6 separate regions of the Homo sapiens genome follow, and all the other regions are reported to be linked to region 2. The links are microRNA targets in miRTarBase. Many come from high-throughput screens and were not tested one by one. Region 2 holds a microRNA gene; each other region holds the end of a gene's coding sequence.

Region 1 (5,076 bases), not on the chromosome of region 2:
TACAGCAGCCACAAGAGCTGCTCTCTGCTGTCAGAAACAGTGTGCATCCACCCCAAGAGCAACCGAGATGGAAGGGTCTAAACTTAGTTCTTCTCCAGCATCCCCCTCCTCCTCTCTGCAAAACAGTACTCTTCAGCCAGATGCCTTTCCACCAGGACTTCTCCACTCAGGGAACAACCAAATAACAGCGGAACGGAAAGTCTGTAACTGCTGCAGCCAGGAATTAGAAACTTCTTTTACCTATGTGGACAAAAACATCAACTTGGAGCAGCGGAACCGGAGCTCGCCATCAGCAAAAGGGCATAATCACCCTGGGGAGCTTGGCTGGGAAAATCCAAATGAGTGGTCCCAAGAGGCTGCCATATCTTTGATATCTGAAGAGGAGGATGATACAAGTTCAGAAGCCACGTCTTCAGGGAAGTCTATAGACTATGGTTTCATCAGCGCCATCTTGTTCTTGGTCACTGGGATCCTGCTCGTGATCATCTCTTACATCGTCCCACGGGAAGTGACTGTGGACCCCAACACTGTGGCAGCCCGGGAGATGGAGCGCCTGGAGAAGGAGAGTGCGAGGCTGGGGGCTCACCTGGACCGCTGTGTGATTGCGGGGCTCTGCCTCCTCACGCTGGGGGGCGTCATCCTGTCCTGCTTGTTAATGATGTCCATGTGGAAGGGGGAGCTCTATCGTCGAAACAGATTTGCCTCTTCCAAAGAGTCTGCAAAACTCTATGGTTCTTTCAACTTCAGGATGAAAACCAGCACGAATGAAAACACTCTGGAACTGTCCTTGGTAGAGGAAGATGCGCTTGCTGTACAGAGTTAATTCTGGTTGTGAATATCTTGAGAGTCTGCCTTGGCATTTTATAATATGAAAAAAGTTAATTTATAAAAATTCACAGTGCAATTTATTTGCCTGGCAAGAAAAGTTTATTTCACAAACCAACAGCCAGTAAGTGTTTTTGTTCTCTATGTGTCTTCTATTTAGAAGAAAAGCCATGTAAGATGTATAAGAAACCACAACCAGCCACACCTATCCTTCTGAAGAGCTGAAGGCTAATTAATCTGTAATGGCCAAGAACTTCTACTTCGATAGAAAAATATTTCTAATGACCCAGTCTACAAATTATTTCTTTTACACAAATATATGATGTTATTCTTTGGACACTAGGTGGTCCTACACACAGTAGGATCAATTGCTAATCTACTTTGTGAAAAAGAACTAAGCACTAATCAATAATAAGGCTTACATCTAATTCTCAAAGGTGCTTATCCATTTTCTTGCTAAATTATCCTTCTTGTAATTTGGCTAAACACTAAAACATGGAATTTTTAGTTTGAATATTTTGAAGTTTGAGGATGTTGGGCTTTCCTTATTGTAAAAAATGTTATGTTTGAAATTATTCCTGTTTTCAAAAATGGTAATTAAGTCATTAGGATAAACTTTCTAATAAAAAAAAATTATGTAAATCATTGTAAGACCAATGTGAATTTAAACCACAGTGTTGGTGCCAGATATTAGCCAGGGTCACAGGCTCTTTTTTAAAATGAAGTCAAATTAGTTACTGATATAAGTTTTATATTTTGTGATTTTGCCATCATACTGGTTATCTGTGCTCTTGAAGTCTGCTGGTTCTCACACCAGCAGCAAGAGGCAAGGCATGAGACATTTTAAATATATTTCCAGACATCTAAACATCTAGACAGGCCTGAGTCATGATTGGCTCTGGTGTGCTTCCAGGTAACATCTTGTTATTGCTGTTTGGGGAAAACCACCAATAGAATTGCAGCTAGACTTTTGGGGACTGTGCCTCGCAGGCTGTATCACTTGCTGTAGGCCAAGCAACGAGCACTTCCCTCATGGTAGCAACAGTCCTTAAGCCCAAAGCCAAAAAAAAATAAAATGGAAAGAGAGATTCAATACACTGATTTAATGGGGACTGTAGTCATCGTCAGAACTCACCTCCCACTCACAGTGGTCTAGATGTCATTCAGCAACTGTGAACTCTTGCCTCATGCAGCACAAACTCTTCTCTAAGAGCAGCATGATGAGCAAGGTGCTCACTTTGCAAGACACACACTGGGTGTTCACAGTGACAGACCGCCTCATTATGGTGACGGTTCAGAAAAGGGATGGGAAATGCAGCCTCAGAAATACCTTACATTTTGCAACTCTGCCTGGAGGTTTTTCCAACCTGTGCTCTAAGAGTTGTTGTAACTTCCATGATTGTGTTACCAGGATCAGGGGGTCATTCTTAAAAAGAGGACAGGAGCTGGGAATTGGTATGAGACAGCAGGAATGAGGAAGTAAGAAAGTGATTTCTTTGCAGATTTTTAAAGGCTATTTCAAATGTCTGAAGTTTGTGGTGTTGTGGACAACTGTGGAATACATGGGTGACTTTGGCAAAATGTGTGAATCAGGATATTTATGTGGATGAGCTCTCATGGGTGTCAGATTGATTTGATGAGTGAGGTATGCTGCATATGACTTAAGGGTTGAACTGAAATACAAAAAGGGAGGCTCAGAAGATAGTAAAAAGAGAGGATGGGCATATGAAAGAATTATTAAGTAAAAATGAGAAATTATATGGCCATCAGAGGAAGCTAGATGTAGTTAATTGCCTTATGTTATAGAGCAATACTGATTACTGAAAAGAAAGAATTGAGATGACATAAACATGATTTTTGCTTTCTGTTGCTGTATTTTTGTGCTTTTTGAACAAACTTTGTTTTACTGTGACTCTCATTTCATGATTTTTGTTGAGGCTGCCTTACCAGTGGTATAAGTTTTATATTCTGAAGGTTTCTAAGTCCAGCTCTAGCCTGCTTAAGGATCCACTTTGGATGATGTTGAAACAAGAAGGAAACGATCTGCTGAGTGAGTAGGTCTGAGCTGTGTGTTAAAAAAAGAAGGCATTAAAAAAAAGAAGGCATTAAAGAAAAAACTAATGTTTATTCATAGAAGCTAAATGAGATCAACTGAGTTTTTATTTATTGGTGAAACAGGATTAATTAGCCAAATGGCAGACTAAACTGAATTAATGTGGAATCAATTTTCAGTTTATGAAGGAAGAGGAGTTTGGGAATCAAGTGTTAGGAGGTCTTTTCACTTGATAATAAAGCTTTTCATGTGGAAGCATTTAATGAATCTTGCAGGGCTACCAAATAATATAGATTTGATCTAGAGGTAACATTTTGAAAAATGCCATTTTGGAAAAAAAATATTCAACGGGGGAGAAAAAGACCTAACACATCAAAATACATTTCCTTTCTTTTCCCTAGAATGCTATAATTTCCTTTAAAATTTAAAATCGAAATGTGGTAAGTAAATGCACACTTCAACATTATTTAAATCTGCTAACATATAGAGCACCTCTCTTTTAAGGTTCTACTTATCTGAGGGCAAACCATTACACATTACATGATTTTGAAAATCATCTGAATGACTTCTTTTGGGCTGTGGTGACATTATTCAGATACTTGCCTTAATCGACTTTTCCCTGGGTATTTGGTTTATGTAGCCCTTATCCATCCTGCCTGAATTCAATATGAAGATTACTTGAATTTAAAATGATGGTAACACAGGCAAAGAAAAGCCATGTGCTTTATTTCCTGTTTTTCCCAATCTGACAAAGAGTGTTTTTGGCTCTAGAGGTACTTTGGCAAGACCAGGTGATGCATTCTATAGACATTGGGCATACAATACCTATAGTTTTGGTCTTGCATCCTTCATGGAGATTTGTGACCTTCCGTCTGTCTCTTCAATATGGTGCTGGTTGTTACCTGTGAAAGTTTTTATTGCTAGTCCTAGAGAAGAAAAACATATTTCAGTGGTTCTAGGTCTTTAGCTTATTTACATGGTTTTAGAAATCTAAACTCAAGAGTCATCTTCCTAGTCTCAATGAGAAGACAGCTCGTCTTTCAGCAGTGTGGCCCAATGGGGTGAGTTACAGAAAGAAAGCTGTCTTTCTCCTTTATTACTGGGATCTACACGCTGCTGGTGGATGATTTAAGGCTCCTAATATCTTTATAAGCCAGTTCTTTTTAGGGCACCTTAAACTGTTAGTGGTAGAGTTTGCAAAGAGTTTTCTTTGCAGCGCTGTGTGTCCTTCCCACCCATTGGGAGCTCTTAAAGCAGATCACATAATAAGATGTACTGGCCCCTCATATAAAGAACAGCTTTTCGTCATGCTCCCCACTGTGTAGGTGATTTATAGTTTACAGGAAGACAAGACTGCTTGGAACCATGAAGTTCTTGGAGGCCATGGTTGCTTTTACCCACATGACTGCTATAACCCTTGATTCTGTTCTATCAAGTTACTTGCCTTGATATCATCACATGCTTTGCTGTCTGCTTAAAATATGAGTTCATCCCCCTCATACTTATTTGTTTTAGGGACCCAATTGGACCAGTGCTGGCACATGCCCTTCAAGGTACAATTTCTGAAAAGAGACTGCGCTGCCAAACTTATGTGTGCCTTTACCTCAGTCCCCCCAGTATAAGGGGTGACTTAATCTTGATAAATGAGTGACTGAGCACCATGCTAGTTAAATATTGAGAATTAAAAGCCTGAACCCAATGGCTCTATTTTTTTTTACCACCTTCTGACAAGCAAAAATTCTAGGCAGGAGCATGTGAACATTTTGGTCTTCATCTTTCACGTGTGCAATGATAGGTGTATGCAAAATTTTACTTGGATTAATTGTCAAGTTAAAAAAGTGTTCTATATGTATATCTCTTAGGAGAAGGTTTTTCAACCTGAAGGTCAGATTTCATTGCAGCAATTAATGCCATCAAAAAAACGTGGTCTGACAAAAAAGATTCACAACCTTTGCCAGTGGTTCACCTATTACAGCAAGATGTAATACTATCAATACTTACTGTTCTCTGTAATGGGTTTAACCTTTCCCAGAATTGGACATAAAGAATGACTACGATGAGAAGATTATAATGAAGTCTTACTGGCTTTTCCTAGTCTAAAAAGAGTACTTAAGAAAGAGAATTAACATATCATTTCCTTTTGGCTGATTTTTAGCTATATCTGTTTTTGGTTCATAATATTCTATATTATCATCTCA
Region 2 (5,076 bases):
AGCTAAACAGAATCCCTCAAGGCCTTTTCCACACTGTAGAAAATTGTGCTGGCATTTGGACAAGTCACCCTGCTTAATATCAAACATCTTTGCCTTAAGCATTATTTTTTCAAAGGAAATAACGTGTTAATACTTCCCAACCAGTGTATAATGTTTCTATTTGTTATTAGCTCGTACTATTTAAGTTCAGTTGTTAAGTTTGAAAATACTAGAACATTAAAAATCTGCAGAATGAGAAATTATTTTGTGAATGTTTAAAATATTCAAAAGTGGATCCTGACACTAACCACTTTTAATTTATTTTACTAGCGATATATTATTGGATGACTTTTTTTTTTTAAAAAAAGAAAACCTTCTGCTTGTTTGTTTAAACTGCTTTGTAAATTGACAGTTTAACCACCTCTGCAGAAACAAAGTAGTAATAAAAGATGTTGGCCATTTTAGCAATGTTTAAAAATTGCTCACAAGACAGAAAATGATTGGCACTCAATATGTGTTTAGTGATTGATGCAATAATACCATAAAATTATTGTACTGCATAATAAAGTATTTCACTAATAATTTGCTAAAAAATTAGCCTGAGGCCTGCCACTCAGCACAGCACTAACTTTTCATGCTTGTGACAAGTTGTATATGAGCAGGATGGGTTCCAACCTTCCCAATTTCAGAAGAGTATTTTGCAAGAAGGAATTTGTATTGAGAGTCCAGAAAGAAAATTGCCTAAAAGTTTTTAAATCCTCATTTTTCTCAATAAAAAAGTGCCATATGAATCATAAATTAACAAATGCACACAAAAGGAGAAAATGAAAACAAACCATAATTTCTCTACTGAAAGATAACCATGGTTAACATTTGATGTTTTGGCCTCAGGCATGTATGCATTTTTTCACAGAAAGGGACTCATACTGTGTATATTGTTTTATAAACTGTTTTTTAATTCAATAACATATCTTGAATTTCCAAGTCTACCAGACTTTTCTACAGAATCAATTTAAATAATTATGGTCTATCATAAATATATTACTCTTCTCCTATAGCTGGACATTTAGGTTGTTTCCAATGTTTACCCTTATAAACAATGCCACTATGAGCAACCTTATAGGTAAATCTTTCTACAAATTTTTGACATTTTCCTGGAGATAGATTTCTGGGCCATAGAAATTGAGGTTGATTTGGGGTGGGGGGAGTTGGTAAGATTTACCTGTAAAGGTTGATTTGGGGGGTGGGGAGTTGGTAAGATTTACCTGTAATGCATTAACTTCCTCATCTCTTTTCATCTTCCATCTGTTCCTTCCCTTTTCTGTATTTTGCAGATTATTCAAAGCCAAAAGCCAACAGAGCCCCCATGGAGAAGTGGAGGATGCTCAGATACTGCTATGGAGCCCTGAGAAGTGAAATGGGTCCAAGCCCTTGCCCAGGATAGAGCGCTCCAAGCGCATCCTCCGGGGACCCTTTTAATCAGTGAATTGTTCACCTCTCACTGTTTCTTCCCAGCAGAGCTAAGAGACTTCTAGAGCCTCTTGTGGATGGTCAGCGATAGCCCTGGTATGACCAGGAGGTGGCGATTTCTGTTCTAGGTCCCTCAGCAAAGACTAAGCAGGACAAGCCTGGCTACTGTGTTAGGAGGAGCTGTAGGGAAAGGGAAGGACAAGATGGGCCACCACATGCCTGTGTCCACTGCTGGCCACACCCAGAGTGCTAGGGGTTTGTGGCAGTGACTGGGGCCACCTAGAGCAGTTCTAGGGTTCGTAGTCATTCTCTCTGAGTCATGGAAAACTGCCCAGGAGGCGAGTCCCACCTAAGAGAGTATGTGTAGCACTGGCACGGCCTGCTGCCTTGCAAATGACCACATTTCATGAAAGAAAGCCAGGGCCACAGACAGGAACCAAAGGAAATCAGTCACTTAGGGGAAGATAACGAATCCACAAAGTGAAAAAGGGAAAGAAAAAAAGAGGCAACTTCAACACTCCAACCCATGGGAGCAGAACGACTTTCAGCTTTCGCAGGGGGATAATCACTGCAAGTCCAGCTTGAAGAGGGTGATTTCAGGATCTACATGAGAATAAGGCGCAATTTTTTTTTTTTTTTTCTGAAAAATACGGAAGGGTTCATTTACAGCTGTTAAAGATGGGCCGGTTTTAGGGCTAAAGCAAGACTCTGGTCAGATGTTAACAACTCAGTTATCCTGGGGAAAAAATAACTGGCTCCCAACCCTTTCCCTTTTCAGCATTTGCAGGAAAAGAAGGAGTAGGTAAAATGCTTTATTTCCTCTCATTCTCCATGGTGGGCAGGAGTTCACATAACAATTATAAACCATCTTTAACAGGAAAGCCAAGTAAATCCTGTAGGGATTTATTTGGAGCTCCCTTTTTGCTAGAAAATGAGTATCATGAACTAAAAATGGACTCGTTTCCTCTCTCTCCATCTTCCTCTCTTTCTTCTCTCCCCTCATCTCCCACCCACCGCCATGGTGGAAAATGACTGTGGTCAAGAAGATTGAACATTTGAGCAAGACCAGATGCCTTTATATCCAATAGATGCCACGGAGAGTAGATCACAACACATCTAACTGCTGTATCCCCATATAAAATAATTTTAATTTTCCTAGACTGCAGAATTGATCACATTTACTGATGATGGATTGGGAAGTAGGTGAAGAGGTGAGAGTTGGAGAGTATCCATTCATTCGGCCAGATTATTCTCATTTATAATGTAGTCTTCCAATAAGTATTTATTTCCAGAAATCTATTCCCTCTAGAGATTCTTTCTCTCTCAGCCATTTTAGAAAATTGTTGCAAACAGAGTTCCTGTCCATTTTCACAGGAAGTTTTTGCAGAAGGGGTTTGCTGGGTGGCAGTGGAACACAGGCAGTGGACCCCTCTACTACTCTACTGTTCCAGAACACAGAAGCCTTTCATTGAGAGTGTTCAGCTCTTCCCATTGCTCAAGATGCTTGTACCCGTGATGCTTCTTTTCTCTGCTTAGGTCACAATATGTGGAGCTGACAAGGTTCCCCTATTATCAGTGACAATGGTGGAATGTGGAGGTGAAGTTAACACCTTCGTGGCTACAGAGTTTCCTTAGCAGAGCTGTGGAGTGTGACAATGGTGTTTGTGTCTAAACTATCAAACGCCATTATCACACTAAATAGCTACTGCTAGGCAATCCTTCCCTCGATAAATGTCTTGGCATCGTTTGCTTTGAGCAAGAAGGTTCATCTGATATCAGTCTTCTCAATCTTGTGTACTTACTGAATAAAGTCTGGCTCTTTTGCACTCATAACCAATATGGTTAGCTGAACCCTGCCTCTCACATGCTGTTGTTACATACCTTAGCTGGTGATTAATTTTCTTGTTTTCCCAAGTCAATAAAAAGATTGCAGACCAGGCACGGTGGCTCACGCCTGAAATCCCAGCACTTTGGGAGGCCAAGGCAGGCGGATCACTTGAGCTCAGGAGTTCAAGTCCAGCCTGGGCAGCATGGTGAAACCGTGTCTCTACAAAAACTACAAAAATTAGCCAGGCATGGTGGCATGTGCCTGTAATCTCAGCTACTTGAGAGGCTGAGGTGGGAGGATCAATTGAGCCCACGAGGTTGAGGCTGTAGTGAGCTGTGATGGTACCACTGCACTCCAGCCTGTGTGACAGAGCAAGATCCTGTCTCAAAAAATGAAAATAAAAAGATTGCAGAGTTCCTCAGAGCCCCCAACACAAGGCCAGGCACGAGGTAATCATTTAACCCATGCTTATAGACTTAAAATGAATAGTTAGGAAAGTGTTAGACGCAGAAGGCTAAGACTGGGCTAAATCTATGTTATGCAGACAGACCGCAAGCTTATAGGTACAAAATTAAGGTGTGTGGGTCCTTCTCTTTTCGTCGTTAAAAAATCCAACTTTCTAATAAACTTACACATGGTTTCACTGACGTTTCAGAAATTCTAGAATATGTTTGATTTCTACTGATTTCAATCAATTACTAGGCTGATTACTGAATTCGTACACTAGGCCTTTCTTCCTCTTGCATCAGTGAATTACCATCAGAAAATTGTTTATGAAGCATGTGTGAGCTGCCATAGCAAATCTGGGACCCATGCAGTTTCTAGGACAGTTGGCCCAGCCAGGTGCTCTGGTTTGGAACCCATTCTGTCTCTGAGAGGTGTCTAAAGTCAGGAGTAGGTTTCGTTTGTGCCAGACTAAAGCTTCCCTCCCCAGGCTTGGTTAAATGAAGTAGGACATGTTTAATCAAATAGACAGGGTTAGATCAACCATCAGAAACAAATTCAACCATTCAACCATTCACTTATGAAATAAATATGTGTAGAGACTACCGTGTGCCTGACACTGTCCTAGGCATTGAAGACACTTTTAAATTAAATGTGTCTGATGTTATTTCCAGAGATGGGCATTCACTGGCTCGCATTATATTTTGGGACCATTGTAATTGTTCCAAACGGGAGCCAAATGAGCAAAACTTTGCGAAATAATTCTGAGTCCCTTGCTGGAAAGCCTCACCTGAATGCAGCCCACACATTTATGATACACTACAAAGGCTTCAAGGTCATGAGATGCCTCTGTCCAAAGAAGAAGAAGAGCACCCCTGCCTGCCCTGCATCTCTTACCACCTCTCATTTCTTCCCTCCTGGCACCATCTACTGTCAAGAAGAGAATCAGACTCCCTGAAATAATTGAGACACTGACATTCCTTTTTGTGTGTATTTTTTTGGCAAAGGCTCTAATTGAACAGGCATTAATAGAGGGCTCTACTGTTATACAGATCACGCTCATGCACACTGTATTAGTCTGTGTTTTCATGCTGCTGACAAAGACATACCCGAGACTGGGAAGAAAAAGAGGTTTAATTGGACTTACAGTTCCACATGGCTAGGGAGACCTCAGAATCATGGCGGGAGATGAAAGGCACTTCTTACGTGGCATCAGCAATAGAAAATGAGGAAAAAGCCAAAGTGGAAACCCCTGATAAACCCATCAGATCTCGTGAGACTTATTCACTATCATGAGAATAGCAGGGGAAAGACTGACCCCCATGATTCAATTACCTTTCCCTGGGTCCCTCCCA
Region 3 (5,076 bases), not on the chromosome of region 2:
GAGGTAAAAGGAAATGAACTCTGGAGTTAGGTCTGGACTGAATTATTCCAGCTCCTCTATTAGCTGTGAGAATTTGGGCAGGTTAACTTTTCTGGGCCTTGTTTCCCTATCTGTAAAACTGCCAAAGATGTTTCTGGTGGCATTGTGTGGGTTACGTTAGCAGCAGCCTGAGGCTTTGGGTAGATCATGGGATTGATGAAAAGGTCCCCCTTCTAGAGTGGGAGGGACTCCAGGTTAATCTCACTTCCAGCCACATGGCTGGTCTGCCCGTTGCTTAGCCTCTCCGGGCCTGTTTCCACATCAGTGAAGTGGGGACAGCATTTCTCACAGAATTGCTACGCTCAGCTCTTGACCAGCAGCCCTGCACTTCTCTTGCCTCAACCCACAACCCCCATGCTAAGGTAGCTCCCATGCCTTGCCCAAGGTAATGGTATAAATGGCAATACCTCCTCCCATCTGTCTGGGACCCTTTGAAGACTCAACTTGGTAGCCCATACCTGGAGCCTCTCCTAAACCACGGCCCCAATCCTCAGTATGACCTAACTCCGCATCACCAGAATCTTGCCTTACCAGAGCATACCTTCAGAATAGCCTCCCTGGGCTGGCATTTGCTACCTGTCCTGGGCAAGTCTGCACCCTCTAAAGGCAGGAACTGCGGCTTCCTCATCTCTGGATTTCTCATGAGAGGGCTTAACACAGAATATGTGCTCAGCAAATGTAAAGCCCCACTTTCACCTTTTGGAAATAGCTCTGGGAAGGCAGTGCTGGGGACAAGATGGGGCAAGGGCAGGGGGTAGGGAGAGGGGAATTCCCTCAGTAAGTATGAGAGGATTGTGCAAAAAACATGATGCCTGGAATCAAATGACCTGGATTCAAACCTCTGCTCTATCACCTGCCAACTGAAGAATCTAGACAAGTTTCTATACCTCTATCTGAGCTGTTCCCATGTCGGTAAAAGGAGGACCACAATATCTACTTAGCACAGCACCTGGCACATACTGAGTACCAGTATGCTTTATGTCCCATGTGCTGTCCTAAATGTTTAAATGTACTGATTTATGTAAATCCCACTACAACTCTAGGAGGCAGATACTATCCTCATTGTACTGGCGCTGCAAATAAGGAAAATGAGGCCCAGGGAAATCCAGTGACTTCCCCAAGTTCATGGAGCTAATAAGATGCTCACTAAATGGCAGCAATTACTGTCCTCAGGTAGTAATGCAAAGGACACAATCTCAGTGACCCCAAGGACTCTGGGGTCCTGGCTGTGGGGTTTCTGCACCTGGACTAGCTCCATTCTCACTTCTTCAATTACAGCAAACAACGGAGACCAATCAGTGTTGTAAATAGAGTTAACATAATATATTTATTTTAAGTGCCATTCATGCATATCAGTTCTGGCAGCAACAATCCTAATGACACTTGGAATATTTCTTTACAGCACTAAACAGTTACAAATAATGGTTGCCGTTCATCATAGAGGCAAAATATGAAATCGTGCAATAGCAAAACTGTAGAAACATTAAAACACTGACTGTCCAACAGCAGTACAGAGAGCAGGTTGTATCTGCACAAAAAGCCAATGCATTTTCATCACATATATACAATATAGATATGTACACATCACCCTCTGAATGAACAATATCAAAATACTCTATTCCATTTGAAATTATCCCCGGATTGATTCCCTCCCACTTCAAAGGACATCTGAGCGACACGTATTTACAAGAACACACATGAATACATTTACATTTCAAAAACTGCCACAAATGCCAGTCGGATTATTCTCCTGAACAGAGTGTCCCCATTTGTTTACATGCATTTACTATTCTTTCCCCCTAAAGTCTTCAGTCAATTTAAGCCCAAGACAGAACTTGTTCTGCATTAGCAACTACCATACAAAATGGCCACTAGAGGGACTCTCTGCACCTCACCAGGTAACCCTGTCTGGCCAGGGCCCACAGAAAAGGCCTGTCCTGGGCTCCTGGACCACCTGGATCACAGGAGAGTGGGATGGGTCTGGGTGAAGGCTTTGCCTCCATGGCCATTCTTGCTAAGTTTAAATTCTCATAAAAATATTCATCACTGCAAATCAGTAAATGATTGCCAAATGGGAAATTCGCTTCACACAATTTATAAAATCATCATCAGTGGTTCTACTCAAATCACTCAGTATGAGACTGCATTCCAATATCCAAATTGTTTAAAGTGCACATTGCTACCCAAGCAATTAAAACAGTTTCAAAACAGCTATTTTGGTGTCTAGAAAACAGTGACTTAAGCAAACCATTGAAAATCACCCCTCTTTTTTCAAGCATTTACTCTGCAGGCTGCCATCTCATCTTGCCTCTGATCCTTCTAAGAGGCGCAAGTTGGCTGCCTTTCCAGAATCCTCTGATTTTCGTTGATCCAAGGGGCTGGAACTGAGCTTCCTTTTTCATGCCAAGTAGGGTCCAAACAACAGAGAAACATAAAGCTCTTCCTTTCTCCCCAACCTCACCAGCCCTTACCATGGCTGGCTTCCCAGTGATTCATTCAAGGCAACACTCCATTAAAACACACACACACACACGCGCGCGCACACTCTCACACACAGCACACACACACAGAAACAAAAGATGTTTGTTTAGTTCAAGTAGAGATTACTCAACCATAGAATCACTAAGGCTAATTAAAGTGATTTAGCATGGCTGATAAGACCAGAGATGCTAAAAAGCAACTAGTGAGCAGTTATTACTCTTTGACTTGATGGAATATATTTCCCCATTAGAACTGACACTTTTTGGGGGGTCTAAAGAATCAATTCAAAATCTATTCATTAAAAAAAAACCCTCATTTCTTCTAGTTTTATCATAAAACTAAGATAATCAGTCCATGCAAACTGTGATATGATATGAAACAAAACAAACCACCACCACTAAAAAACCCGTAAGAGGGGCTGCATTTCAAAGAAAGGGACCAAATGTCATGCATACACAGACATACAAGACAACAGAAACAGCAGGCCACATAATATCTACATTAAACACTGAAGCAAATAAAACTGTAAGTGGCTCTATCCTCCTTTCAAGACAACCTAGATGAGTGGGGAAACCTGCTTTAGAAACCCTGCCCTGCTGTTGTTGCCCAAATGAAATCTGATTCAAATTCCAGAAAAATCCGATTTAACTAATAAGTCTGAATCAGCAAGAATGCCAAGACAGAGAAATCTATTCACATGGTAAAAGGAGTGATGATAGAGAATGACACAATGTCTCTCTGAGTGTCTTATCTGTAAATTCTTATCAAGAAAAGTAACGCTGGGCCAGGCGCAGTGGCTCATGTCTGTAATCCCAGCACTCTAGGAGGCTGAGGCAGGCAGACTGCCTGAGCTCAAGAGTTTGCAACCAGCCCAGGCAACATGGTGAAACCCCATCTCTACTAAAATACAAAAAATCAGCCAGGCATGGCGGTGTGCACCTGCACTCCCAGCTACTCGGGAGGCTGAGGCAGGAGAATTGCTTGAACCCGGGAGGCGGAGGTTGCAGTGAGCCGAGATCGTGCCACTGCACTCCAGCCTGGGCAACAGGGCAAGACTCCATCTCAAAAAAAGAAAAAAATAATAATAGTTCTGTGCTTTCAGACACATTTCTCCTTAATGAACCCGACAGGAGCTAAGCATTCACAGAAGGTAGCAATAAATATTAAAATGACACTTTTGAATAATAAATACATAGGTGAATGTGGAAGCACTGATGTGTTTAAAGAGCCAAGCAATGCCCAATTTCTTACCAATCAACAAATTTTAGAGCTATTATAATGCAGATTTAGAAAAGCAGACATAAATACTCTATGATCCCCCAAGCATCAAAACCAATTTGGTCAGTTCTTCATGCTGCTCAGGAGCAACATGCCCCTTCGGATTGTTGGAGTGTGTCAAATTCTGGTTTCCTTGACTTATTAGATAGAATTCATTACCCACATTTCTAAAAAAGATTAAATAAGGGGAACTGGGTTTTGGAAAAAATCTATTTCCTTTCAGTTTCCTACATCAGTTAAAAGCATCCTGCAGAAAATAGCCTAACAAGGAATAAAAACTGACAATAACTTTCAAGACATAATAATCCAATTAGAAAAAACTGAAGCCTTTCAGTAATTTTTGTACATATATTTACACATATGTATCTTTATATAAACTGCTTGCAGCAAAATAGGCTCCGTCTGAAAAATCAGTCTGGCACTTGTGGTTAACATCAAACTGACACAAATATGCAAAAAGCCGTCCAAATCACACAACAGTTAGGAGCTACATAGGGCAGCTGGCAGGGAGACAAACATGTAGTACTTGCTTGGGTCAGATAAAAGCAGTAAGTTATCCAGCTAAAATCCTTCTGATTGTCTTCAAAAGTAATTTTGATAACATTGGTAAAGTGATTAGCAAGTTTGTTTTCTCAACTGGATTCTCTTAAACCTTTCCCTTCACTGCACAGAAAGGTAACGTTAGGGTCTGGTGTCTTGCAGAAACAAGCCCTACACAATTGAATCCCAATCAAAGTCATCCTGGATGTCATCTGGAGGCAGGGAACGCCGCATCTGGAAGGCTTGGGAAGGCATCATGTGCTGCTGGTTCATGGCTCTGTGATGGCCTGGAAGGAAAGAGGCAATAATAGCAGCGACTTGGGTAGAGAAGAAAGTAAGAAATAAACTAACCCCTACTGTGTACTTCCTATATGCCAGGCACACATTATCTCACTAATTCAACCATAAGCCTTCAAAAAGTGGCTCTTATGATCCTTATTTTATAGGTAAGGGGATACGGTTTAAGAGGATGAGTAAATTACCCAAAGTCACACAACCAGTAGGGGACAAAGATAGGATCTGAGGTCAGTTCACTTGATCCACACTCCTTCCATTATACCAGGCTGCAGTAAGGAAGACACGAGAAAAGTGCCAATGTAGCCACTGCTCTTACAGTCTGTTTTGCTCCAATACGTTGTTTCAGTAACATGAATTGGCTCCCATGAGAATGGTAAACAGGATAATGATGGCAGTGCACCAATGACGTCATACTGAATTTTCCCCAGCAAGCTAATTTCT
Region 4 (5,076 bases), not on the chromosome of region 2:
CTCACTATGTTCTATCTCCTTACTGGGCCAGAAATTCTTATGCAAATTAATAGGGAGGTAAGACTAGCCAGGAACTCAAAGCCCAAACTTTCCAAGGCCTGTGATCCTGGAACAGCTCTTCCATGTGTCCATGAGAGAGACTGGTGCTAGGAACCAGTAAGTATAGAGGCAAATTTTTTGTGCTCCTTTCTGAGCAGCACACTTTAAAAATTCCATACAGTCTGTATCTGACATAAATTAGGGTATTGTAGCCAAGTTGTCAATTTCACCAATCCTCAAGCCACATGTCTATTCTGTGCAGGTCTATGGAACCTAATGCACAGTCTCCTGAGAGCATAAATGAAGTATCGGGCAATTGGCTATGGCCAAAGGAGACTTGTCTTTTTCCCCTGAGAGATTTGCTCTCACTGAGGCAGAAGAGACTCTTCTAGATGCACCGTTTAGACCCCAACACTTTTCCTGCTCACCGAATACACAGTGACTGTATCCTCTCAGAACCAAATAATAATGACAATAATCATTGTATGAGGTAGCTTTTAAAATGTGCTTTTTTTTCTCTTTTAACTCTCAACTCCCTTAGAAGCTGGGGCTGTTCATCTTCTCAACTTTACAAAGAGGGAACCCAGTAAACAGGATTGCCTCTATATAACAACAACAACAAAAACCTAAAGCTTGAACAGAAAAGGAACTAGTCTCTTACTCATTTAGGTACAATGAAATCCTGGATTAGGGCTTTCACAACAGGCATGAATTCGTTAAGCGCCCAGCTGAGCACTAAATCAGACTTGAGTGGAAGAACTAGGAAAGCCTTGGTGAGATCTTTCGTAATTGCTTTGTCATTAATAAGCAGGATTTTGTTACCCACATTCAATGAGCCCACGATAATAATTTAATTCCAGGCAAGTCTCTCAGAAATAGGTCTTTCAACAAGGAAAAGACCCAAATCCTAACCTAGCACTGGCCACTCAATTCAAAATCATGCAGGATTTTTTAAGTACCAGGGCTTTATGGAGAAATTACAATAGTGGTAAGAAAAATGTCAGCCTTCTCAACACGGCAACATGTATTGAATGAATCACCATCATGTATGTGATGATTACAAAGGCGATTTAGAAAGATGTGGTCAACAGTATTCATTAGCCCTTCACAAGAGCAGGTTTAACAGTTTGGTTACTTCTTCATCTTCTTACGTAAGGCTACTGGCTACTTGGCTATTGAGGCCAAAGTCTCAACAGGGGTTTCACAAGACTAAACCTGTCCTCTCCCCTGCTGTTTTTTCATTTTAAGTTAATGGTGGAGTAAGCACCCACTGAACCAATATTCCAACGAATAACAACCATAAACTCTCAAAAAAATACAAAAAATACATGAGGGTAGGAGACAATAAAAACAGGCAAGTTCTGAAAAGAGATTGAAATTTTAAAGAAGGGAATGGCACAAGGTGAGTTTCCCATTGTACAGCTTTTGGGCTGAAAGAAAACTGCAGTTTTTCTGGTCTAAGAATCAGAGCAACCACAGCTGCTGGAAAATGAGGGGGGAAATCTCAGAAGAAAGAGAGCCAAAGAAAAAGCACCACAAATTCTGTGCATAAATTCTATCCATCTCTCTGGCTAAGCCCTGAACTATGTGCAGCATAGACTCCAGCTAACTGAATTGAGATTTTCAGCTGCTGCCCAAGAGAGTTTACAGTTTGAGTCCAATAAAGTTAAATGCCTGCTAACACAAGCAATATATATATATACACACACACATACACAATATATATATATTTGTGTGTGTATATATTTGTATATATATATTTGTGTGTCTATATATACACACAAATGTAATACACAAATGTTGTATATATATATTTTTGTGTATATGTATATTTATGTGTGTATATGTATATATCACAGCACTTTTCAGAGCAATATAACAGAATCTACAACATAAACATTACAATGTTCAGGACACAATCTAAATCACTCAATATATGAGGGACCTCCCCCCAAAATCTGACCATTCTGTAAAGAGGAACAATGGAGACCAATTCTAAGATTATCCAGATGTCAAATTTACCAGAAAAGAATTTTAAAGCATAATTTAAACTCATTGAACATAGTTATGTGTTCTCTACTGAGAACACATAATTTTTTTATTTATGTGTTCTCTACTGAGAACAAATAATTTTTTTATTCACTATATAGTTATGTTCAATGTTTTGTTCGGTTATGTTCATAGTTATGTTCATCTGTTATGTTCAAGGTTCATAGTTTTATTCACTACATAGTTATGTTCAATGAAAACATGCATGTAGTGAATAAAAAAATCTCAGTAGAGAAATATAAAGAATTAGGGAGAAATTCTAGAACCAAATGATAAAATGTCAAAAATTAACTCTTCAGTTGAAGACTCCCTTTGGGAAATACTCCTTAATTTATTTCCTTCGTATCTCTGTTCTTTGGTCCTTTCACCCCTGGAACTCGGTCAATTTAGAAGGAAAAGAGACTAACTTAATTTACCTTTGGATCTTCTATAAGGGCACAAATCAGATCCACAGTTACTGATGTTCCAATGACATGTGAGATGCGAGTTGCAAAATAACTCATAATCAAAATTACCTCCGCTCAGTTGGAGATTGTTTCAAATGACTTTTATTTGTACCAAAACTAAATGGAAAATTGCTTGCTGACACTGTAGGAAGTTAATTTCTTTTTTCTTTGGGAGGCTTGACTTGAGAAAAAGAATTTAGTTAAGTTTGGTGGTGAAATTTTATATACAGTATTTTCATTTGGTGAAGATATGAAGGCCAGGACTAATAGCTCTTCTGCCTAGGATCCCTAATATTTCACACTAGGCCTGATAGTCGCTCCTACAGAGATGACATTTTTCTTTTAGAATGCAGTAACACCTACCAGGCCTCTGTAGGAGGCAGGCTACATACAATAAGGAAGTGTTTTTATGAGGAGAAAAATGATGCTCAGAGACAAAGCATCAAAGTCTTATTTTCTGAAGTGATTCTAACATGGAAGAATTTGGAAAAGATAATCCCAAGACTCAGTCCATTGTGAGTCTCCCATTGGTCCCGCTTCTCACTTGGTCACCAAGTTCTGCACACTATGAGACATATACTTCTGAAACAGCCAGCTTCCCAATCCCAAAGATACCTGGTACTCTCAAAAGCAGGGCATGATAGGCTAGGGCAGAAATTGGTTCCTGGATAAAACAGGACCCTACTCACAAAAAGCGATAATAAATACATTAAGAAAGACTACCAAACAAACCTGAAATGGTTTTAGAAATGGAGGTGATAGCTTCTCTGGGAGCAAGGAGTTATGATTATTTCACTCAATTAAAACAATGTCCAAAATATGAGAATGAAAGCTCCCAAACAGTGTTCTTAGCAATTTTGTAATGTGTACCAATGAAAATTGGTTTTCAGTATTAAAATGGACCAATGTCTCTGAGTTAAGAATTAGTTACTATATCAGAAACAGGAAAAAAAACAAAGTAAATAAGCTGAAAAACTAAAAAGCTCCTCTTTTTATCACAGTTCTTCCACATAAGGCTGATCAACATATCATCCAATGATATAAAATTCTAGAAACTTTACAAAATTCCTTTTTAAAATTTATTTTTTGTTATCAAAGAGAATGTCCAGAAACATTGAGTACTAAAGAATTTGTTCATGGCATTGTTTTACAAAATTTTCTAATGGAGAGTGAATATTTTATTTTCTGATGTATTCTTCACTTATTAATGATGAGGTCAATGAACTGATGCAATTATTTAAAAAAAAAAAAACAGACAACCTTATAAAGGAAAAAACAAAAACAAAAACAAAAAAAAACCAAACGTCCATTCTCATTCTGAATCTGTTGACTGGAGTGAATTCAGTGGTCACAATACCACCATCAAATAAGAATCAACTTCCTCAGAGTAAGGAGCTGTTCCGATCTTCTCAATAGTTCACACAGGTCTCTCAGATATAGGCACCATGTTTTAAGTCTCACACAAAATGTCTGTGTCACTTAAATTACACAATATGGCAGTGTTTGTCTTATGGGGACATACTGAAAGGGGCAAAGTAGAAAACAACCTGTTTGCATGTTATATGTGAGTACATTATTGTACTGTGCATGGGTATGAGGGCATTGCAGCCCTTGTTAAAGAGGAATTCCACCAATTGAAGCCTATGTCAGTTCCCAGCTGCTCTTGGTGCTGAGAGTATCTACTCATATAACCTTATTTTGTTAGATCAGAGCCCTCTTCATCTACAGTTTGGCTGAAATGGTTTGAACTGAGTTTGGTCGAACTGAGTTTGGTCGTTTATCTCTTCCATCTGAGCTTTATTTCTCAGCCTCAGGATATGTGGGGTACTTGACCGTTTCTATCTTCTCTCGAACTTTGTAGGAGGGATATAGGCCCGTCCTTCCCAATTTCCTGTTGACACCTTTAGAATAGCCATCCCAATGATTTCCAGCCACACCAATGATATCTCCAGGTTCCATGGGAATTTCATCTGCAGTTCGGGGTTGGTGAGCATAAATGGCAATTTGATTGTGGGCATTCTGGCCCCCAAAATAGTAGATGTCATCTAAAGAATGGAAGTTTGCAGAGGCATCAGGATGTAGTGTTTGCATAATTTCATAAGCAACTCGACAGACCTTGGGAAAGAATTTAAAAGAAATTGTTAGTATATAAACACTCTCCTTCACAGCAATCTAAAAGCCCTTGGCCAAAAGGATGGGCTCTAGGAGTAAGAGGTTGAAAAGTAGTGGATTCTAGTCACAAGCTTTCAGTCCATTTGTTCTCAGAAGATGGTACAAGTCATTCTTCATCTCTGTGTCTGGATCCTTTTTCAAATAAAGAAGAAAAACTCACGAAAGATTATTACAATTAAAATCTCTCTATCTCTATATAGTACAAAAGAATTTAAGAATATGAATTAGTTAATTTTAACAAACATTTATTAAGAGCTACATACACAGTGGTCCAAGCTAGGCACTCATGATACCAAAATGAGTAAGACATAGTTTGTGCCCTTAAAGAATTTGAAGTTTAGGATTAGGATAAAAAAACTTAACACAAATA
Region 5 (5,064 bases), not on the chromosome of region 2:
TTTGTATTTTTTGTAGAGACCAGGTTTGCCATGTTGCCCAGGCTGGTCTGAAACTCCTGGGCTCAAGTGATTGAACCATCTTGGCCTCCCAAAGTGCTGGTATTACAGGCCACCACACCTGGCCTTAAATCTAATTTTTAAACCACCTGAAAAGATTAGTTCAAGCCATCCCTTATTAGGTTGTTCTAAGTTTTAAAAAGAGTCCTTATCCCAGTGTTAAGATTTGGATAGAGGATAGAGCACAGGAAAAAACAATTAGCTTGGTTGTTTGCTGCCATTTCCCCTCTCCCTCTTTTACTCACACACGTTCTCTATTTCTGCACAGAGTTTGAAAGATATCAACAACATGATAAGGCAAGGTGAGCAGAGAACCAAGAAGCGAGTAATAGCCATCGATAGTGATGCAGAATCCCCTGCCAAACGCGTCTGTCAAGAAAATGATGACGTTTTACTGAAACGACTACAGGATGTTGTCAGTGAAAGAGCAAATCATTAATGTTGTTCTTGTTTCTATGATAAAAGCACTTTCAGATTGTTCTGCAGAAAGTTGGAGCTCTGTCCTTCAAACCTTTTAGCCCTATAGATGATAAATATCACTGGGTTATAAGAAAAAATTGCACAAAAATTATGTGCTTTTTAAAATATTTATCCAAAATGTAGTTGACAGAGATGTATTTTGAGTTGGATTGGAAAGGAATATTTTAAGTGCCTTTTAAAAATACTAATAGTCCGGCCAGGCGCTGTGGCTCACGCCTGTAATCCCAGGACTTTGGGAGGCCAAGGCGGGCAGATCACCGGAGGTCAGGAGTTCGAGACCAGCCTGACCAACATGGAGAAACCCCATCTCTACTAAAAATACAAAATTAGCCGGGTGTGGTGGCGCATGCCTGTAATCCCAGCTACTTGGGAGGCTGAGGCAGAATTGCTTGAACCCAGGAAGCGGAGGTTGTGGTGAGCCAAGGTTGCGCCACTGCACTCCAGCCTGGGCAACAAGAGTAAAACTCCATCTCAAAAAATATATATATATATATAAATAGGGAATTTTTTTTAATGTTTGCTCCTTGAGTTTTCAAGATGAAATAAGGAGAAACCCCATAACTTTTTAGCTCTCTTTTAAAAATAAATGTCTCCTTCTGTGTTCTGTAATATGAGGATAAATAATCTACTTTTGATAGCATGCTTTGAGATATTTGTATTCTTAATTTAATATTGAAGGAAGGGGTTGGTTCCCATAGTACCTGGCCAGAGGGTTATATACCATCCTGTCTCTGGCCCACTGTGGTAATTCCACATCCAGGTACCACCGCCATTCAGAGTTGTCTCACCCCTTCTCGTGCCTTTTCTCTCCTTGAGCTTTATAAACAGATTTGTACCTGAGCCCCAGTGCTACACTCATCCTTGCTTTCCAGCCCTAAGCCATCTCAGCCTGATGTCACAACCCAATAAATGGGGCACTTTCTTCTTTTGTAAACTATTATCATTTTGGTTTCTGTGACATTAACTTAATTATATATGATCGTATTAACTCATGTAGTTCTCAAAATAGGCAGCTGCTTCTGAAGCCAGTAAAATAAAATTCAGTTAGTTATTAAAAACTAAATTCCTATTAGTAAGGTAACACCATGATTATGTGTGATATACTGTTTTTGAGATCATAGTTATCAGTCATTCTCAATATCTAATTGAGTCCCTAAGAATATTTTAAACCTTTTAAAAATCACATAAATATCATCTCATGCCTCATAATTCTAATATATTTAATACATCAGTAAAATAGCTGCTTATTACTTCCCACACTTTGTTCTCAGTATTGTTAGTGCATCATGAGTTTCCTGCTAGTGTTTGACCACTGGGTACTCCTGAAGATGTTTTTTAGTACTAGGGATGCTTTTCAGTATTAGGGATGCTTTTTTCAGTACTAGGGATGTACTAGGGAGTACTGAGTACTCCTGAAGATGTTTTTCAGTACTAGGGATGCTTTTTTCAGTGTTAGGGATGCTTTTCAGTACTAGGGATGCTTTTTTCAGTGCTAGGGATGCTTTTCAGTACTAGGGATGCTTTCCAAAATATCACCTCTTTAACGTTTACTTTTTCTAGTGTGTGTCTGGAATCCAAAGGACATGAATAAGCCACTCATAATTAATTTTGAGAAGTTTTATCAAATGTTTATGTTTCTAACTGCAAACCTTAATTTTGGAAAGGCACAATGTTTAACTCACCTATGTTTAACCATGGCTAATTTAAAATAGTCTAAGATTTGGCCGTCACTAATTAGTATTCTCAAGAATTTCATTTTTCAATTTTAAGAAGAAAAGGGATTTTGGTCACATTTTGCTTGTAAATGAAAATTACATCCTCATTCTTTGTGTAGTATCTACACATTGTTATAAGCCAAAAAACAAAGTCTGTCTGGAATCTTTGTACATATTTGTATGTTGCTATAATTGTTATTTTTATCTTCATTATTGTGCAAAATATAAATGAGCATTTGTACATTGACTGTATAAGAAACCATGGGCCAGGTCCTGTGGCTCATGCCTATAATCCCAACACTTTGGGAGGCTGAGGCAGGAGGATTGCTTCAGTCCAGGAGTTCAAGACTAACCTGGGCAACATAGCCCTCATCTCTACAAAAAATAAAAAAATTAGTTGGGTGTGATGGCATGTGCCTGTAGTCCCAGCTACTCAGGAGACTGACATGAGAGGATCACTTGAGACTGGGAGATTCTGAGGCTGCAGTGAGCTGTGATTGCACCACTACACTCCATCCTAGGTGAGAGGGCAAGACCCTTTCTCAGAAAAGGAAAAAAAGAAATTCTGGACATGTTTTTATCAGTTTTCAGGACTTGGTATCAATGTACATAGAATGGCTAATAAAAATTGGAATTGAGATTATTGAAAAAAAACTCTTTTCTGTATGACTGGAAGCAGTTGCACAGCCATCTGAAATCTGTCTGTTTTAATATCTATGTCTCTAAAATTCCTTAGAATAACTTAAAAGTTAATGTTCCTGTGGTTTCCAGGGTCTAGGGGGAAAATGAAAAATAACTGCTTAATGGATACAGAGTTTTTTGGGGGGGGAGTGATGAAACTATTTTGGAACTTGATAGAGGTGGTGTAGTTGCATAACATTGTGAATTTACTAAATGCCACTGTATTGGACATTTAAAAATGGTTAATTTTGTGTTATGTAGATTTCACCTTAAATTTTTTTTTAAGTCTTGATTTCACCTTAAATTTTTTTTTAAGTCTTAGATACTATATTAGTCCATTTTCATACTGCTGATAAAGAAATATCCAACCGAGACTGGGAAGAAAAAGAGGTTTAATGGACTTACAGTTCCACGTGGCTGGGAGGCCTCACAACCATGGCAAAAGGCAAGGAGGAGCAAGTCATATCTTACATGGATGGTGGCAGGCAAAGAGAGCTTGTGCAGGGAAACTCCTGTTTTTTGTTTGTTTGTTTGTTTATTTGTTTGTTTTTGAGACAGAGTCTTGCACTGTCACCAGGCTGGAGTGCAGTGGTGGGATCTTGGCTCACTGCAACCTCTGCCTCCCGGGTTCAAGTGATTCTCCTGCCTCAGCCTCCCAGGTAGCTGGGACTACAGGCGTGTGCCACCACGCCCAGCTAATTTTTGTATTTTTGTAGAGATGGAGTTTCACCATGTTGGCCAGGATGGTCTCGATCTCTTGACCTCATGATCCACCTGCCTCAGCTTCCTAAAGTGCTGGGATTACAGGCATGAGCCACCATGCCCAGCGGAAACTCCCGTTTTTAAAAGAATCAGATCTCATGAGACACATTCACTATCAGGAGAAGAGCCCAGGAAAGACCTGACCCGATAATTCAATCACCTCCCACTGGGTTTCTCCCACAACATATGGGAATTGTGGGAGTTACAATTCACAATGAGATTTGGGTGGGGACACAGCCAAACCATATCATTCTGCCCCTGGCCCCTCCCAAATCTCACATCCTCAGATTTCAAAACCAATCATGCCTTCCTAACAGTCCCCTAAAGTCTTATTTCAGCATTAACTCAAACCTCCACAGTTCAACATCTCATCTGAGATAAGGCAAGTCACTTCCATCTATGAGCCTGTAAAATCAAAAGCAAGTAAGTTACTTCCTAGCTACAACAGGGGCATGGGCACTGGGTAAATACAGCCATTTCAAATGAGAAAAATTGGCCAAAACAAAGGGGCTACATGCCCCATGCAAGTCTGAAATTGAGTGGGGCAGTCAAATCTTAAAAGCTCCAAAATGACCTCTTTTGACTCCATGTTTTACATCCAGGTCATGCTAATGCAAGAGGTGGGTTCCCATGGTCTTGGGCAGCTCCACCCCTGTGGCTTTACCTCCCAGCTTCCCTCCCGGCTGCTTTCACAGGATGGTGTTGAGTGTCTGCGATTTTTCCAGGCACACAGTGCAAGCTATCAGTGGATCTATCATTCTGGGGTCTGGAGGACAGTGGCCCTCTTCTCTCAGCTCCACTAGGCAGTGCCCCAGTAGCGACTCTTTGTGGGGACTCCAACCCCACATCTCTTTTCCACACTGCCCTAGCAGAGGTTCTCCATGAGAGCCCTGTCCCTGCAACAAACTTCTGCCTGGATATCCAGGCATTTTCATGCATCCTCTGAAATCTAGGCAGAGGTTCCCAAACCTCAATTTTGACTTCTGTGCACACCATGTGAAAGCTGCCAAGGCTTGAGGCGTACATGCTCTGAAGCCATGGCCCAAGCTCTACATTGACCCCTTCAGTCACGGCTGGAGCAGCTAGGACGTAGGGCACCAAGTTCCCAGGCTGCAACCAGCAAGGGGATTCTGGGCCCAGCCCACAAAACCACTTTTTCCTCTTAAACCTCCAGGCCTGTGAATGTCGGGGGGATGTGATGAAGACCTCTGACATGCCCTGAAGACATTTTCCCCATTGTCTTGGTGATTAACATTCAGCTCCTCATTGCTTATGCAAATTTCTGCAGCCAGCTTGAATTTCTCCTCAGAAAATGGGATTTTCTTTGTTTGTTTGTTTTTTGTTTTGAGATGGAGTTTTGCTCTTGTTG
Region 6 (5,076 bases), not on the chromosome of region 2:
CTCGGGAGGCTGAGGTAGGAGAATCGCTTGAACCCGGGAGGCGGCGGTTGCAGTGAGCAGAGATCGCGCCACTGCACTTCAGCCTGGGCAACGGAGCGAGACCTCGTCTCAAAAAAAAAGCTGTGAGAAAGATAGGCTTCTAAGTTAAGGCAAATCATTCATTCTGTCATTAAACAAATACAAACCAGGCACCTGTCATATGCCAAGTGATATTCAAAATGGCCCATGTAGACCTTTGTGAAGTATGTGGCCTAACAGACATTAAACAAATGTCTGTGAAACTGACATAATAAAGTAAGGTAAGTTATATGTGAGACATTCTCTTTTTATAATAATTCCTGTAAAGCAGTACTTACTTAGGTAATGATATCATACTGTTTTGTTTTATATTTTTCCTAAGAGCTAAAACGTCATCCTCTCTTCAGTGATGTGGACTGGGAAAATCTGCAGCATCAGACTATGCCTTTCATCCCCCAGCCAGATGATGAAACAGATACCTCCTATTTTGAAGCCAGGAATACTGCTCAGCACCTGACTGTATCTGGATTTAGTCTGTAGCACAAAAATTTTCCTTTTAGTCTAGCCTTGTGTTATAGAATGAACTTGCATAATTATATACTCCTTAATACTAGATTGATCTAAGGGGGAAAGATCATTATTTAACCTAGTTCAATGTGCTTTTAATGTACGTTACAGCTTTCACAGAGTTAAAAGGCTGAAAGGAATATAGTCAGTAATTTATCTTAACCTCAAAACTGTATATAAATCTTCAAAGCTTTTTTCATTTATTTATTTTGTTTATTGCACTTTATGAAAACTGAAGCATCAATAAAATTAGAGGACACTATTGAGAGTGAGCCACTAGCTTGATTTTCTTTCTCCTCTGATTTCAGTTCACTGTTCAGTTTAGCATTAAAATAATAAAATAATCATACAGTTCCATTTGATTGTAATTTACTTGCATATGATTACCTTCAAAAGCTGTGTTCTTGAGGGCAATCATTTAAGGCCATACTTGTGACCTCAGAAATGCAGCTGGAAGGCCGGGCGCAGTGGCTCACGCATGTAATCCCAGCACTGTGGGAGGCCGAGGCAGGCTGATCTTGAGGTCAGGAGTTCAAGACCATCCTGGCCAACATAATGAAACCCCATCTCTACTGTAAATACACAAATTAGCCGGGCATGTTGGTGGGCGCCTGTAGTCCCAGCTACTCTGGAGGCTGAGGCAGGAGAATCGCTGGAACCCAGGAGGAGGAGGTTGTGGTGAGCCAAGATCGTGCCACTGCACTCCAGCCTGGGCAACAGAACAAGACTCCGTCTCAAAAAAATAAAGGCAGCTGGAAAATTCCTTCACTTAGTAACTCCTTTGGGGAATAAGGAATAAACAAAAAGACTAAGGCTTTCACTTACTTTACTAATGATACGGTTTTGCCACCTTAATTTCTATTGGTGCGTAGTCCACAATATGTATTTGTTTAAAATGGTACTGGAGGACGGGTGCGATGGCTCATGCCTGTAATCCCGGCACTTTGGGAGGCTGAGGCAGGCAAGTCGCTTGAGGCCTGGAGTTTGAGACCAGCCTGGCCAACATGGCAAAACCTGGTCTCTACTAAAAATAGAAAAATTAGCCAGGTATGGTGACGCACACCTGTAGTCCCAGCTACTTGGGAGGCTGAGGCATGAGAATCGCTTGAACCCAGGAGGTGGAGATTGCAGTGAGCTGAGATCACATCACTGCATTTCAGCCTGGGCAACAGAATGAGACTCAGTCTCAAAAAAAAAAAAAATACTACTGGAACAATTAGGTGTGATATAATGTAGCAATTTGAATAGCTTGTTCAATTTTAATAGAAAATGTGATGCTTTACATCTTATTGTCATTTATTTAAAACATGCAACATTATCAGAAACAGATTGGTCCTTAAAAAACAAAACATAATTTTCTTTTGCTTAATAAATATAACTATCACAAGTACATTATCTGTCAACATCATTCTTTTCAACAAAGCGAGACCCCATTTCCGGGGGAAAAAAAACTTGTTCCTTTTGCACATCGGGTTTAGTGTTTTTACTTTCCATTACCATCCCAATCAACAGCCCTGTTGCAATGTAGTTGACAAAATGTACAAATTTAAAATGGTTACAGTGAAAGATACACCATTATAATTAGTGCTATATAACTGAATCCATGGGTTAATGGTTTTACTGAGCTTGTTTTAGTAATAACTACTTAGATTTAATGGTCACTTCTAGTAAAATGTTCAAAATACAGTTGTTCAAAACTTTGAATTACATCTTTCCCTTAAATTAGGCAAAAGCATAGAATTATCTATTATCCTTTTATGGTATTTGCCAGTAGTAGAAAGAAAAAAAGTTTGGGAATCAAACACAAATTGTTGAAATCACTGCTCTGCCACAATAAAAGGCCTCTGGCAGGTTAAACTGAGCTATTGATGACTCACTGTATAGTGGGGATTAATAGTGATTAATTTGGAGAGTTGGAATGAACAGAGTAGATTGAGGAACAAGCCAATTTAGTTGCTACCCAGGATATTAACCTTAACAGGGACTTGAAACATTACTGAATAATCGGGGAAATGTTCTCTGAGCATATTCCCAATGCACAAGACAATGGCCTTGAGTGGAAAGTTACACTGTTTACTAACAGACCTAGCATGTGAAGCTATAGTCACTTGAAATTCAGCCACAGGTAAGGCATGCTGTAATGGTATTTATTGGGAACAGGTGACTTATTATCTAAATTTATACCTGTCAAGATGTAGATTCAGACACTTGCTAGGGAAAAACCTAAGAGGAAAGAACAATGGGAAAAAGGGGATGGTTTTGACAGCTGATGTATATGTGTGCATGCACGTCTTTAAAAAACACCAACGGCCACCAATAGAAATCCACTCATCTTTTGCTATGAAGGAAATCAGAACATATCATCCTAAAATGCCTCTTTGACATAAAAATATTTTTGAGCTAAAGGCAGTTAAGAAGCAGCAAACTGAGGAAAGCTCTCGCCATCCCCCTGCCTTTCTGCCCAAAGGCAGGATATAACTTCTCCTTTGCTGGAGACAATTCTAGAGTCTTATCTACCAGGGACAGCACCAGAGGAATTGGCAAAGAAACCTTATTCAATTAGTTTCCTCCCACATACAGTGTTTGCCTTCCCAAAGGTTCCAGTCCTTGGAAGCCTAAAACCACTTTCCTTTGTCCTGTCATTTCTCTACAAATGTATTGTTCTTTGTTGGCCAGGCTGGTCTCAAACTCCGGACTTCGTGATCCACCCGCCTCAGCCTCCCAAAATGCTGGGATTACAGGCGTGAGCCACCCGGCCAGCTATATACAGTTTGTATTAATAAAAAATAATTTGTGGCTGGGCATAGTGGCTCACGCCTTTATTTCCAGCACTTTGGACAGCCAAGGTGGGATGATTGCTTGAGGCCAGGAGTTAGAGACTACCCTGGCCAACATAGCAAGACCCTGTCTCTATCTAAATTTTTTAAAAACCGTCATTCTCAGCAAACTATCGCAAGGATAAAAAACCAAACACCGCATGTTCTCACTCATAGGTGGGAATTGAACAATGAGAACACATGGACATAGGAAGGGGAACATCACACACTGGGGCCTGTTGTGGGGTGGGGGGGAGGGATAGCATTAGGAGATATACCTAATGTAAATGACGAGTTAATGGGTGCAGCACACCAACATGGCACATGTATACATATGTAACAAACCTGCACGTTGTGCACATGTACCCTAGAACTTAAAGTATAATAAAAATATATATATATATATATAAATAAACTTTTGTTTTCACAACGGCATAATGTTTATTGGATGAATTTAGAAAAAGAGTAAAAAGAAAAAATAAGTTGGTATCTGTTAAAGGAAAATGTTTTATTCTTACATGAAAAATGCAAAATAATAGATGTGACTTGTTTTCCTTTGGAGCTCCAAAATAAAAATATCAGTAAACACTTATCTAAAAAAATAAAATAATAATTGTTTTTTAGGCTGGGCATGGTGGCTTACGCCTGTAATCTCAGCACTTTGGGAGGCTGAGACGAGTGGATCACAGGAGGTCAGGAGTTCGAGACCAACCTGGCCAACATGGTAAAACCCCGTCTCTACTAAAAATATAAAAATTAGCCAGGCATGATGGTGCGCGCCAGTAATCCCAGCTGCTCGGGAGGCTGAAGCTGGAGAATTGCTTGAACCTGGGAGGTGGAGGTTACAGTGAGCCAAAATGGCGCCATTGCACTCCAGCCTGGGTGACAGAATGAGACTCTGCCTCAAAAAAAATTATTTAAAAATGTTTTGTCCCACCCCCATTAAATGTTAAACAAATCCAGAAATTATGTTTGAAGAATGTCCTGTTTATCTTGGCCCACCTATGTTAGAATTAAGTAAGATGAAGTACATAGCAAACATAAAAGGTGTTTAATAAAATGATAATTATTTGAACCCTAAGTACCCTACTGCCTCCTGGAATATGTACTTTAATTTTGGGTTCGGGAAGTGGTAACTATATAAAGCCTTACTATTATGCTCCAAAACATCTTGAAGGACATTCGGGTCTAATTCCTCTATTTGCTACAAAGAACTGTCTTATTTTTAGCCATTTATAAAAATGCTGAGAGTCCAGAATATAGTACAAATATATTTACTGTTTACACCAGGTCTTTCAATTAATACCAAGCCAACCATGGATGAGTCATTCTTTTAACTGTGTGGAAAGTGTATTGTACGGGACAACATTTGAAGGAAGGAGACTGAATAAAAGGCTTCTGCACCAGCCCACCTGGATTCAAGACATATTTTAGAGGTAGGAGCAACAGGACTTTACTGATATATGGGATGAGACAGGTGAGAGAATGGAAGAGCCACATTTGACACCTAACTTCTGGCTTGAGCAGTTGGGTGGATTGTGGTGCTGCACCCTGAACTGGAATGAGGGACAGGATGGGTAGACATACTAAGTTTGAGATGTCTGTGAGACACCCAAATAAAGAATTCAAGAAATCAGTTGGACACCTCCAAATAAAAATGGTATGTCTGCAAATT

Evidence for each region. The annotated mature microRNA hsa-miR-122-5p reads UGGAGUGUGACAAUGGUGUUUG and lies in region 2 at 3,093-3,114, shown strand. An mRNA with a match to its seed (bases 2 to 7 or 8) in the 3' UTR can be bound and repressed. Matches are read on the target gene's strand: a 7mer-m8 pairs with bases 2 to 8, a 7mer-A1 pairs with bases 2 to 7 and ends in A, and an 8mer does both.
Region 1: the mRNA of TMEM74 is a reported target of hsa-miR-122-5p. The part of its 3' UTR that is shown has no 7-base or 8-base seed match.
Region 3: the mRNA of FOXJ3 is a reported target of hsa-miR-122-5p. Seed matches in the 3' UTR shown: 8mer at 3,907-3,914.
Region 4: miRTarBase lists FUT8 as a target of hsa-miR-122-5p. Seed matches in the 3' UTR shown: 7mer-A1 at 3,866-3,872.
Region 5: the mRNA of RBL1 is a reported target of hsa-miR-122-5p. Seed matches in the 3' UTR shown: 7mer-A1 at 974-980 and 8mer at 2,760-2,767.
Region 6: the mRNA of MASTL is a reported target of hsa-miR-122-5p. Seed matches in the 3' UTR shown: 7mer-A1 at 1,286-1,292.

The regions. Positions count from the first base shown.
Region 1 is chr8:108,779,928-108,785,003 of GRCh38, reverse strand. TMEM74 (transmembrane protein 74) reads left to right here. Exons shown (of 2, transcript NM_153015.3): 2 at 1-5,076. The coding sequence ends at 823. Among named protein-coding and RNA genes, the nearest start is that of TMEM74, 5.1 kb to the left of the region's middle.
Region 2 is chr18:58,447,996-58,453,071 of GRCh38, forward strand. It overlaps MIR122 (microRNA 122), which reads left to right and starts at 3,079; the gene lies at 3,079-3,163. MIR122HG (MIR122 host gene) reads left to right here. Exons shown (of 3, transcript NR_170245.1): 2 at 1,314-1,545; 3 at 2,824-3,286. It overlaps MIR3591 (microRNA 3591), which reads right to left and starts at 3,157; the gene lies at 3,085-3,157.
Region 3 is chr1:42,175,201-42,180,276 of GRCh38, forward strand. FOXJ3 (forkhead box J3) reads right to left here. Exons shown (of 13, transcript NM_014947.5): 13 at 1,348-4,625. The coding sequence ends at 4,510. Among named protein-coding and RNA genes, the nearest start is that of GUCA2A, 13 kb to the left of the region's middle.
Region 4 is chr14:65,741,666-65,746,741 of GRCh38, reverse strand. FUT8 (fucosyltransferase 8) reads right to left here. Exons shown (of 11, transcript NM_001371533.1): 11 at 2,621-4,649. The coding sequence ends at 4,332. Among named protein-coding and RNA genes, the nearest start is that of MIR625, 270 kb to the right of the region's middle. RefSeq lists an enhancer at 477-1,438.
Region 5 is chr20:36,994,191-36,999,254 of GRCh38, reverse strand. It overlaps RBL1 (RB transcriptional corepressor like 1), which reads left to right. Exons shown (of 22, transcript NM_002895.5): 22 at 326-2,906. The coding sequence ends at 496. Among named protein-coding and RNA genes, the nearest start is that of SAMHD1, 45 kb to the right of the region's middle.
Region 6 is chr10:27,185,979-27,191,054 of GRCh38, forward strand. It overlaps MASTL (microtubule associated serine/threonine kinase like), which reads left to right. Exons shown (of 12, transcript NM_001172303.3): 12 at 401-1,975. The coding sequence ends at 558. It also overlaps a transcript of ACBD5 not described here. Among named protein-coding and RNA genes, the nearest start is that of MASTL, 33 kb to the left of the region's middle.